Regions from separate parts of the Homo sapiens genome. Here region 2 is linked to region 1. The links come from fine-mapping of genetic effects on gene expression. A gene starts in region 1. The other region holds a variant in brackets. All regions are shown on one strand. Distances are between the middles of the regions.

Region 1 (5,508 bases):
CTTCCCTGCCAGCCCACCCTCTGGGCAGGAAGCAGGCAATGGACACCTCCCTGGATCCCACGGGACCCTAGGGAAGAGGCGGGGCATGGGCTCTGTCCCTTTGGACAGAGCAGGAACAGAGGTCCAGAAAGGTCTGGGACATGCCGGGGTCTAGAACACCAGAACCGGCCTGAGACTGGAACCCAGCCTCCTCCTGCCCAGACCCAGCCCCTCTGCCATCTTGTCCAGTTCTGATCCAGCGGTGGGGTCACAGAAACACAGCTGCTCCAGCTGGGCCATGAAAGGGGCAGAGCCTGACCAGGATCTACAGAAGCCACAGTGGGTGGGACCTCAGACAGCCTTTCACACATCACTGGGGCAAGGGGCTCAGCAAGTCACAGGGCGGCCTGAAGTCACACAGCAACTCGGGTCCAGAACCCAGGCTTCCTGGCTCCCACCCCCTCCCAAATGGGATCGTAGCATCATCACAAAGGCTTCCAGTTTCTGCAGCCTTCCTGGGTGCCCATCCCATCTCTTCCTTTCTCTCATCTGGAAGGGTGTTATTTCGGCTTAAACTGTCCCTATAGTCAATAGCTTGGGCTTGGAACTCAGGCCACCCGGTCCCAGAGCCCAGCTTTCCCCTGCCTCCACATCCCCAGCTATCCTGCAAGCTACATCCAGAGAGGCAAGACCCGAGCTTCCCCAGAGTCCCTGCCCAGCACCTGACCATTGTCAGAGCAAGGCCAGGTCCACTGGAGAAGAGCATGGCTGATCTGAAAGGGGGAAGCAGGCAGGGGCTGGGCCTCCCCAAGAACTGGGGTGACCTGTAACCTTGATGCCACCTGTCTGCCCCACCCCAAGACTAAATGCATGCAGCCTTGTCTCATGTATCATGGTAACTTCAAGTGACCCCTGAAACAGCCCTGCAAGGCAGGCAGGATGATCCACCATCCAGAAGGAGAAACTGAGGCTGAGTAGGAGGTGTTTGCCCCAAGCACAGCAGCCATGGAGGCTCAGACTGGGCCCATCCGACTCTTCCCATGGCCCCGCTGCCTCCACCAGCCCCACTACCCTGTCCCCATCCTGGAGGGGCTTGGCCAGAGCCACCTGAGGGACAGGAAGCCTGGGCTCCTCCCACCCCCAGCCCCTGCCATGCTCACCCAGTGCCCTGGGCAGAGTCCCACACTCCTGGATGGCACTGGCCTCCCTAGTGCCATTTGGGTTGAGCATTCCACTCCAGGACCAAGAGGGGCATGCTCCAGGGAGCCCCAGGGGCAAGGCCATGGGGCACCTCTGCTCCCCACCCGGTGCCCCAACTTCGCTTCCCAGCCCCTCTCAGGTGCATGCCTAGCACCCGCGGGAGCTGGTCTGTCTGGCAGGGCCACTCAGCCCCACCCTGGGTGCCCAGGCCCCACCTCTGCCATTCTCCTGGGGTGGGGGAGGGTGGCCCTTACCAGCAATGCTCCCTGCCAGCCTCACCTCAGCCTTCCCTGTCCCACCCCACATGTACTAGGCTCTGTCCCACCTCCAGGCACAGCTCCCGCAGGACCCCCACAGCATCACCGCCTTCTCCCCTCTGTGACACGAAACCCAGAGCGCCTGAAGGTCCTGCTGCAGCCCCCTGGGCCTCGCCCCAGGTCTCCGCTCTCCGAGGCAGCTGGTGCCATGGAAAGAGAAACGCTTTCGGTGTGGGCTCAGCACACTTCTCACTAGTGTGTGGACTGCACACCTCCTTCCTTCACAAGCCGCCGTTTCCCCGTCTTTGAAAAGGGGATGAGGACCCCCACCCCACAGTGCTGCTGAGGGGATGTGGCCAAACCGCACAGCCAAGTGCTGGGCGCCTAGCTGGGCCTCAGTGGGGGTGAGTCTCCTGTGTCCTGAGTCTGTCCTGCAGGCAGCAGCGAGCCGGTGCAGCCAGAAAGGAAGAAGGGGAGGAGGGGCGTTCCTTTGAGCCTTGCCGCTGGTTGGGCCCACTGAGGCAGGAAGGGGCCTGCTGGGAGGCTCGTAGAGGGGTCACAGCCAGTGGCTCAACAGCGCCCCCCAGCCTCCTGCTGCCCGGCCTCTCCTCAGGTCCACTGACCTGGCTCGCCTTCCCCGTCAGGGCTGATGTCCACACACCTCCCGGGAGCTCGCTGGGCCCGGCTCCTTCAGTCCTGGGCAGGATGTGGAAGGCGCACCCATCCCCCGATGAGGACACCCGGGCACGGGCGAGGAAGTGACTCGGCCTGTGTCGCCCGGCCGGGGAGTCACGCCGGACCTGGGGCCTTTCTGCTGTAATGGAGGGGAGACCCCTGCGCCTGCCCCAGCCCCGCCCTCCCTGCCTCTGGCAGGCCCGGGCCCTCAGCCAGCCTTGGCCCCTCTGCGCCCGGACGCGCGGACGCTGGGCGCGCCAGGGCCTCAGTTTCCCTGGAAGCGTCCAGCCCCCTCCTGTCCCCGCCGCGGCGACAGGCTCTTTCCTCGGGGAATCCGGCCTGGCCTCGGGGTAGGGGCGGGCGAGAAGCCGCGCGGAGCGGCGGGGAATGGACGTGTGGAAGCGGAGGTCACTTACCGTGTCCCGGCCTGGCCGCCACTGTCCTGGCCCGGGTTCCGCAAGGCCTGAAATAGTCGCAGAGTCAGCCCCGCCCCGCCCGCCCCTCCTTCCCCGCCCCGCCGCAACCGCGGAAAACCCGCGGGCGGAGGCCAAGGCCCAGCGCGGCCCGGCTGTGTCCCTGCGTCCCAGGGGCTGGGCGCGCCCGGCCTGCCCAGCGGGGGATGCGGGGCGCTGTCACTTCCTCCCAGCAGCCGGGCAGGGGCGGGGGGCTGGCCGCGCGTCGCATGGTATGTGGAGTTCGGGGGACGGCACGGGGACGACGGGGTTGTCAGGCGCGGAGCCATTGTCCGACGACGGCTCCTGATAGGCCGCCTGGATGGGGCGCGCTTGGCCGCGTTCCCGCGTCACACACCGGCTCCAGCTGCGGGAGAGCCCGTCCCACCCCAACTCCCCAGCCGCCCCTCTGAAGTGTTCCGGTGTCACCGTGGCCACAAGGAGGCAGGGGACGGGGGCTTCCTGAAGGAGGCCCCCTAAGGGGAAGGGGGCTACAAGGCTGGCCAGAGTGCTGGCCGCGCGGCTGTGCACAGGGCCTTGAGCCCCTCCGGTCGTCAAGCCTTGCTTGAAATGCGTAAATGCGGAAAGGTGAAGTGGCTGACCCGGCTCACACCACTTTAAGTAGCGGAGTGGGGTTCCTAGCCAGGCCTATGGGACTCCCACTGGAGCCTTTCCCCCTCTGGGGCTGGGGCTGGACCCACAGGCTGCCGGAGCAGGCAGAAGGGGAGGGGCCCAAGGCCCAGACTCCAGGGCCTCGTCTGGATCATCAACCCGGCTTTGCCCATTCAGCGCAGGCCTCCGTTTCCAGGCCTGTCTCCCCATCCACACCGTCTCTCAGGGTTTGTTTTGGGAGATGTGGGGGTGGGGCATGTGGGGAGGATGGAAAGGGGCTGTGAAGGGAACCCACTGGAGATTCACTTCCTTCCTTATTTCACACTCTAGGCTAGGAATTCCTGCCCTCTGGAAAGGACCCAGACATTTAGGAATTTCCCGCTGGGCAGGGGCTTCCCTCCTGCCTCACTGGGGCCTCTGCTCCTCCCCTCTTTTGTTTGGCCTCTTTCCCCGCCCCCTGATCACTCCGCCACCCCTTCTGCAGCCTAGTAACAGGTCTTCCAGGACCAGGGGGGCCAGCGGAGTGGGGGCGGCTGTGGGTTCAGGTGCCCTGGGAACTGAGAACTTCCTCTTCCAGAGTGCTGGCCAAGCGCCAGGTTTGCACTCGGATTGCCATCCATCATCCTGTCTCTGGGGAACCTGTGGGGGAGCGGATGCGGGAGGCCGCCAGGATGCAGGATGGGGCGTTAAGGCTGCCAACCCCACCCCTTCTCTCCTAGGACTCCAGGGATGACATTTTTCAGATGAGTCCACAGAGCCGCGGTGTCCCGGGGCTGGGAGGGTCCTTCCACCGGCACCGCGCAGATGGAGTTCATCCACACAGGGGCGATGAGGATACGGGCTGAGGGGCCCTGGCCGGTGGCTGCCTTCACGGCTGGCTGCTGTGGCCTCATTGTGCAATCCCCACAAGCCTCTCCTGCCAGACTCTGTTCCCCCACCCCACCCCCTCACCCCCCCTCCCATTCCCAAGCAGATCGGGAAATTGCTCGGGAAGTCTGCATCTGCCAGGAGGGCGTTGTCAGGCCTTAGGCCCCACTGTCCCCTCGAAGGCAGCCCCTGGTCTCCACGGGCTTTGCAGGGCTGAGGCGGGGCTGCCACCCTTGTCCCCCACTGACGGCAGTGGCCCGCCCAGAGCACCGGCTGGGGATTGGGAAACGAGGCTGCTGCCTTGGACTTGTGTCTGCACCAGTCACTTCCCCTCTCTAAGCTCAGGCATGAGGGTCAATGGTAACATACGTGAAGTCCTCAAGACAAGGAAAGTCTTCTGAAAATGGGGCAGCATGGAGGCCCAAGGGATGACAGCCAATGGGGCCCATAGGGCAGGAGCAGTCCTTACCCTCTTCTCGCAGATGCAGAAAGCAGTTCCCAAGAGGCCAGGCACTTCCAGAGGAGCCAAAGGCCAGCCTACGGCTCCTCCCCAGCAGGAAGCCAGCATCACATGCTGGGTGGCGATGTTTGTGACCAGTGGCCAGCGGCTGTCCCATTCCCCAGCTCCCCAGGGCACAGGCCAGGGGCAGTGAGCAGGGGGCTCTGCCTGGTGGGGAGGGCAGCAGACAGGAGCAGACTGGCAATGACCTCTCCATTTAGCCTAGAAGGCGAGTGTGCCAGCACCTGGCCAGGAGCCACGGTCAGCTCCTCGCACGCAACCCAGGGCCTCAGAGGCTACGACACATGGGATGTTCCCTCCCTTCTGTCTGCCAGAGCAATGACAGCTGACTGTTTAAAAATTATTATGGTACAATATACATAATGCAATTTATAATCTTTTAAGTGCACAGTTCAGTGGCATTAAGTATATTCACAGGGTCGTGCAACCAACAGCACCCTCCACCTGCAGAAATCGTCACCTGGCAAAACGGAAACTCTACCCACTATGCACTAACTCCTCTTTCCCTCTCCTCCGGGCCCTGGCAACCGCCATTCTACCTTTCGTCTCTGTGGTCTTGACTATTCTATGTACTGCAAATAAATAGAGTCACACAGCGTTTATCCTTTTGTGTCTGCATCTGCCAGGAGGGCGTTGTCAGGTTTATTTCACTCAGCATAATGCCTTCAAGATTCATTCATGTGGTAGCAGGTATCAGAATTCCCTTCCTTTTTGAGGCTGAATCATATTCCATTGTATGGATGGGCTACACTGTGCATTCATTCATCTCTCTGTGCACACTGGGATTGCTGCTACCTCTTGGCTGCTGTGTACAGTGCTGCTATAAAACATGGGTGTGTATACCAGGTGTGGTGGCTCATGCCTGTAATCCCAGCACTTTGGGAGGCCCAGGCGGGTGGATCGCTTGAGCTCTGGAACTCAAGATCAACCTGGGCAACATAGTGAG
Region 2 (5,000 bases), 26 kb after region 1:
GAGAGCCCTCAGTGTGCCAGGCCGCAGCTGGGCACGGAGATATAGACAGCTGCTTCCATCAGGAGCCTTTCCTGAGACCATCCCCCAAAAAGGGTCTCCGCAGGTGCCCACCGTCACTCGGCCTCTGCCAGGCCAGACCCTCCCATTAGAATTGGAGGAGGGCACTGACATGCAGTTCTGGGGCCCAGTCCAGACCACAGCTCACAACACCCGAGGGCAGGACCAGCAGCCACATCTAGGCCTTCCCAGATGTTAGGTCCTGAGGCCTAAAACCCTCCCCCCAGCCCCCACCAGCTCCTTCACTGCCCTCCAGGTCCCTCAGCTCACCCGCCTTCAGCCCAAAAGGCCTGACTACTTTGGCTCAACGGGGAGGGCAGGGACCCCCATGGGAGCCCACCCCCTTCCCTGGGTGTCACAGAGCCCGCCGAGGAGGTGTGGGGCCTGAGGGCAGTGGCCAAGGCCACCCTGCGGCTTATCATGGCCATGCAGCCACAGGGGCGGCAGAAGGAGGAGCCTCGGGTCTATATTTAACCAGGGACTGGGGGGGTTCTCAATGCTGTTTCCCACCCATTGCCTCTCCTCCTCCCCCCACTCCTCTCCCTCTCCACCATAGCATGCTCTGGCCCCTCCCCAACACAGGGAATGGAGGGGGTGTCCCAGGGACATGGGGGTGGCTGAGCTGCGGCTGCTCCTGCTCCCCCAGGGCCCTCGGCACCGTGGCCTGCCAGGCTCCACCCACACCCCCTTCCAGCGTTAGGAGCTGTGTTTGCTTTCCTGGCTTTAGGTTGGGAGAGGGGAGGGGCCTCCCACCCACCCCATTGCACAAGCTGGGCCATGGGTGGGGGAGGGCATTAGGCCAGCAAAACCTCACTTTCCTCTGGGAGAAACTGGGGCCAAAGAAGGGCTGGACCTGCCCCTAGCCCAGCCCCAGGGCCCCCCACCCAGGTGCCAGGACCAAAGCACCCGCCTGACCCACCACCCAACCCTTGGGTGACATCGGGCAGGAAGTGTGCCTCCCCAGGCCCCAGTTTGCTGCGGTGGAATGACACCAAAGTGGGCAGGGCCCAGACCCCCACCCACCCTCGCCCTCCAGCAAGGTGCCTGCTGGGCCCAGCTGCAGCCTACCTACCTTCCTTGAGGTTCCCAGAGGCGGCTAAGCAGCTGGATGGAGGCCCGAGGAAGGAGAGACAGTCAAGTGATTGATGGAGCTTTATCAGCCCCGCCCTGGCCACAGGTCGGCGACTTCCCCCAGCGCCAGGGTTCAGGGACCCTGCCTGATTCGGACTTGACCCACACTTCAGGGCACCATCTGTCCCAGCCTCCACTCGCTTCTCTCTCCCCGGTGCCCCTTCATGCTTGGCATGGGGGCCGGCGCCCAGCAGGGCAGGGGTGTTGTGAAGAGAACGGTTCAGCACATGCTGCATCCACCGCTGTCAAGAGGACGGAGGCGGGGATGTGGGGAAGGACAAGCCAGGCCCCGCCTTCTTGTTTGGGAGAACTCACACTTAGTAAGCACCTACTGTGTGCCCAGCTCGATGCCTGACACAGATCAGCTACTGTGACATCAAAGTTAGGGGTTGTCATTTGCCCATTTCACAGATGAGGAACCTGAGGCTCACAGAGGGACAGAGTCTGCCCCTGGCCGCGCACTCAGGCTGGGGAGCCTGCTTGGAGCTGGGAGCAGAGGCGGGACCTGCCACGTCTCCACCCCCAGGGACTCAGAACTGCCGCCCAGAAGCTCCCCTCCCGGCGGAGAGACCCAAGGTGTCAGCAGGTCCCAGAGTGGGGTCAGATGTGGAGGTTCTCTCCCAGGAAGCCCAGACGAGCGCCGGGTAAGGAGGGGCAGCTGTGCGGTGAATCTCTTAGGAGGTTACATAGGCAGAGGCTTGGGGGTCACTCAGCCTGCTTTTGTCCCAAACCAGAACTTCGCTGAAGGGCCAGTGAGGTCCCCAGATGGCCCCTCAGCCTCCAGCCATGCCACCTTCGACCCTGCAGCTCCCAACAGCTTCCCAAGCTATTCTCGACCTTCCCAAAGCAAAAGTCCAGCCAGGTCACTCCCCTGCTTTAAGCCCTTCCATGGTTCCCTCCTGCCCGAGCCCCACAGCCGGGCATCCATCCTGGAACCTCCTTCCTCCACCCCCCACCTCCCGCTGATGACACCTCACCAGCTTCCCCTGGGGTTCACGGACAACCTGCACCCCACCCAGCTTCTTCTCTGTCCTCCCGGCTGCACGCCCAGCCTCCAGCTTCCCCTCCGGCCATTCCCTTTCCTGGCCCCTGTTTGTTCTCCAAACCTGACTTGGGTTTCAGGACCTCGGGGTTCAGATGCCTTGCACCACCGGCCGTCACCATCTATCTGCTCAGTGGGTACTCGGCACTGTCCCTGTGATGATGTGGCCCTCCTGCACTGGGCTGGCAGCCTCTGTCCATCTACCCCGGTCACCCCTGAGCACAGCCTGGAAGCAGGCGGAACATCGGTATCAGGGTCGCCCTGCCACCCCCGGCTGGCCTGCCTGCTGCCATGCTGGCGCCTGCGGGGCTGAGACCTGAAGGCCCCTCTCAACTCCCCCCTCCACCTCCCAAGGCTCTCGCCTGGCCTGTCCCTGTGCCTGCCTCCCCACACCCCCATGGACTCTCTCTGGCTCTCTTTTCTCTCTGCGTCTCTCTGTCCCCAGTGCCCGGAGAGTCCAGGGGGCCCCGGCTCCTATGCTGCCGCTCCCTGATTGCAAGGCCCCAGAGACTGACGCCCGGCCTGAGCCCCGGGTCCCACTCTCCCCAGGTCAGGCTAATACACCCTTTGTGGGGCCAGCAGCAGGGGCAAGAAACCACCCAGAGACACAGTCACTGAGAGCTCCCACCCTGGGCCACCCTAGCTGTGTCCGAGAAGTCAAGTCCGAACTTCCCCACCCTCCCTACCCCCAGCCTCAGCTTCTACTCCCCGCTTTCCCCTAGACCTTCCCTCC[C/T]GTAGCTGCTCCTCATCCTCCCAATCACTCTGCAGTGCTCACCCACTCCCCAGCCTCCCCAACTACGCTGGGACTGGACCATCGCTCCACTCCTCAACGCTCCAAAGGAGCCTCTTGCAGGTGACTGCCTGTACTGTGCCCTGGGCCGAAGCCCTGTGCGGGGCTTGTCCCCTCTCACTTCCCCACCTGCCATCCACCTTCACCTGATCACAGCCTCCGAGCTGCTCTCCTTCCCAGGCCCCCTCAATGCTGCCTCCTCGGATCAGTCATAAGAATCTTGCCTAGCACTTAGACGGTCGTTGGCCAACCTCCCCAACAGCACTTGGGTTTTCCTGTTGAGAGGGGGGACTGAGACAGAACTAGCTGGATTTCCTAGTCCGACTAAGAATGCCTAAGCCTAGCTGGGAAGGTGACTGCATCCATCTTTAAACATGGGGCTTGCAACTTAGCTCACACCCGACCAATCAGGTATTAAAGAGAGCTCACAGAAATGCTAATTAGGCAAAAACAGGAGGTAAACAAATAGCCAATCATCTATCGCCTGAGAGCACAGTGGGAGGGACAATGATCGGGATATAAACCCAGGCATTTGAGCTGGCAACAGCTACCCTCTTTGGGTCCCCTCCTTTTGTATAGGAGCTCTGTTTTCACTCTACTAAATCTTACAATTGCAAAAAAAAAAAGAATCTTGCCAAAACGTCAACCTCCTTTGTTTATTGTTTTTAGAGACGAGGTCTCGCTGTGTCACTTCACCCACTGCTGGAGTGCAGGGATGCGATCATAGCTCACCACAGCCTCAAACTCCTGGACTCAAGCAGTCCTCCCACCTAAGCGTCCCAAGTAGCTGGGACTACAGGTGCGCAACACCATGCCTGGCTAATTTTTATATTTTTTGTAGAGACAGGGGTCTCATTATGTGTGCCCAGGCTGGTCTCAAACTTCTGGCCTCAAATAATCCTCCTGCCTCAGCCTCCCAAAGTGCTGGGATTACAGGAGTGAGCCACCATGCCCGGCCCTATAAACCTCCTTTGAAAGCTTTCCTTGCAAGCTTTCCTTTTCCTTCCAGCCCCTGCAAATAAGGAAAATGACAAGGATGTTTGTTCTCACCATTCTTACTCCTCAACATTTGGCTGGAAGAACTAGTTAAGGCAATAAGGAAAGAAAAATAAATAAGAGATGTAAACACTGGGAAGGAGCAGATTAAACTGTCATTATTCATAGGTGATATGATTGTTGGCTTAGAAAATCTGAGGCTGAAAATTATTGGAGCTAATAAAAGGGTTTAGTAAATTTTGTGCATTGATTATGTAAATACAAGCAACACCTTTCCTATACCCTAGCAAAGCCTATTAGAAAGAGACACTTAAAAGACTTCCCTTCACAGTAGCAACAAAGCATAAGCCCCCTGAGCCGCTGCTGCCCTCGGAAGAAGCACAGCTCCATCCTTAGCTTGGCATTCAAGGCCTCTCCTAATGACCCCTCTGGCTTCAGTCCCAACTCATTCCCTCACTCTGATCACTCAGAAGTACCCACCTCTCCTCCACACCTTTGCACAGGCCATCCTCTCTGCCTACAATGACCTCAGCCCCTCCTTCTTCAGTTGTCAACTCATTGAAGGCTCAGCAGAAATGGCTCCTCCCCCAAGAAGCCTTCCCGGACCAGCTGAGCCCATACCATGTTCGGCACCTCCTGCTGTGGGCCTGATCCCAGCCCTGGGCACACCTGCCATGACGGAGGGACAGTTACAGAGCCTGGAGACCAGGAGACCCGCAAGGCAGGGAGTGAGCCTGACTCAGCCCCCAGCCATGGCTAGTACTCGGCACTTTCCCGGGGAAACCAGGAAAGTGAATCTGATGCCTGAGCTTGAGCGCGCGGGCATATACACACTTTTCTGGGCGTCGGTTTTGCACATCTGTGTGTTGGCCTGAGAGTGTCTCCCTGTATGTGCATGACTCTGCCCTGGAGTGTCCCCAGAGGGTCTGCCAGTGCTTCTGAGTCTGTGTCTGTGCCTGCATGCCCATCTTGGTGTCTTCTGTG

Evidence for each region. PIP is the estimated chance that this variant, and not a neighbour inherited with it, causes the effect. A credible set is the group of variants that fine-mapping cannot tell apart.
Region 2: its variant is the best candidate, but not a certain one, in a credible set for the expression of TNFAIP2 in whole blood (TOPMed, PIP 0.56).

Annotation. Positions count from the first base shown.
Region 1 is chr14:103,120,503-103,126,010 of GRCh38, reverse strand. TNFAIP2 (TNF alpha induced protein 2) reads right to left here and starts at 2,550. Exons shown (of 12, transcript NM_006291.4): 1 at 2,060-2,550. LINC00677 (long intergenic non-protein coding RNA 677) reads left to right here and starts at 3,102. Exons shown (of 2, transcript NR_138038.1): 1 at 3,102-3,402; 2 at 4,980-5,162. RefSeq lists silencers at 2,259-2,308, 2,609-2,888 and enhancers at 2,553-3,086, 3,087-3,619.
Region 2 is chr14:103,095,048-103,100,047 of GRCh38, reverse strand. The region is part of intron 1 of EXOC3L4 (exocyst complex component 3 like 4); the gene reads right to left. Among named protein-coding and RNA genes, the nearest start is that of EXOC3L4, 2.8 kb to the right of the region's middle. RefSeq lists a silencer at 1,532-1,701 and an enhancer at 4,745-5,000. The variant C/T (reference allele first, on the strand shown) is at 2,964.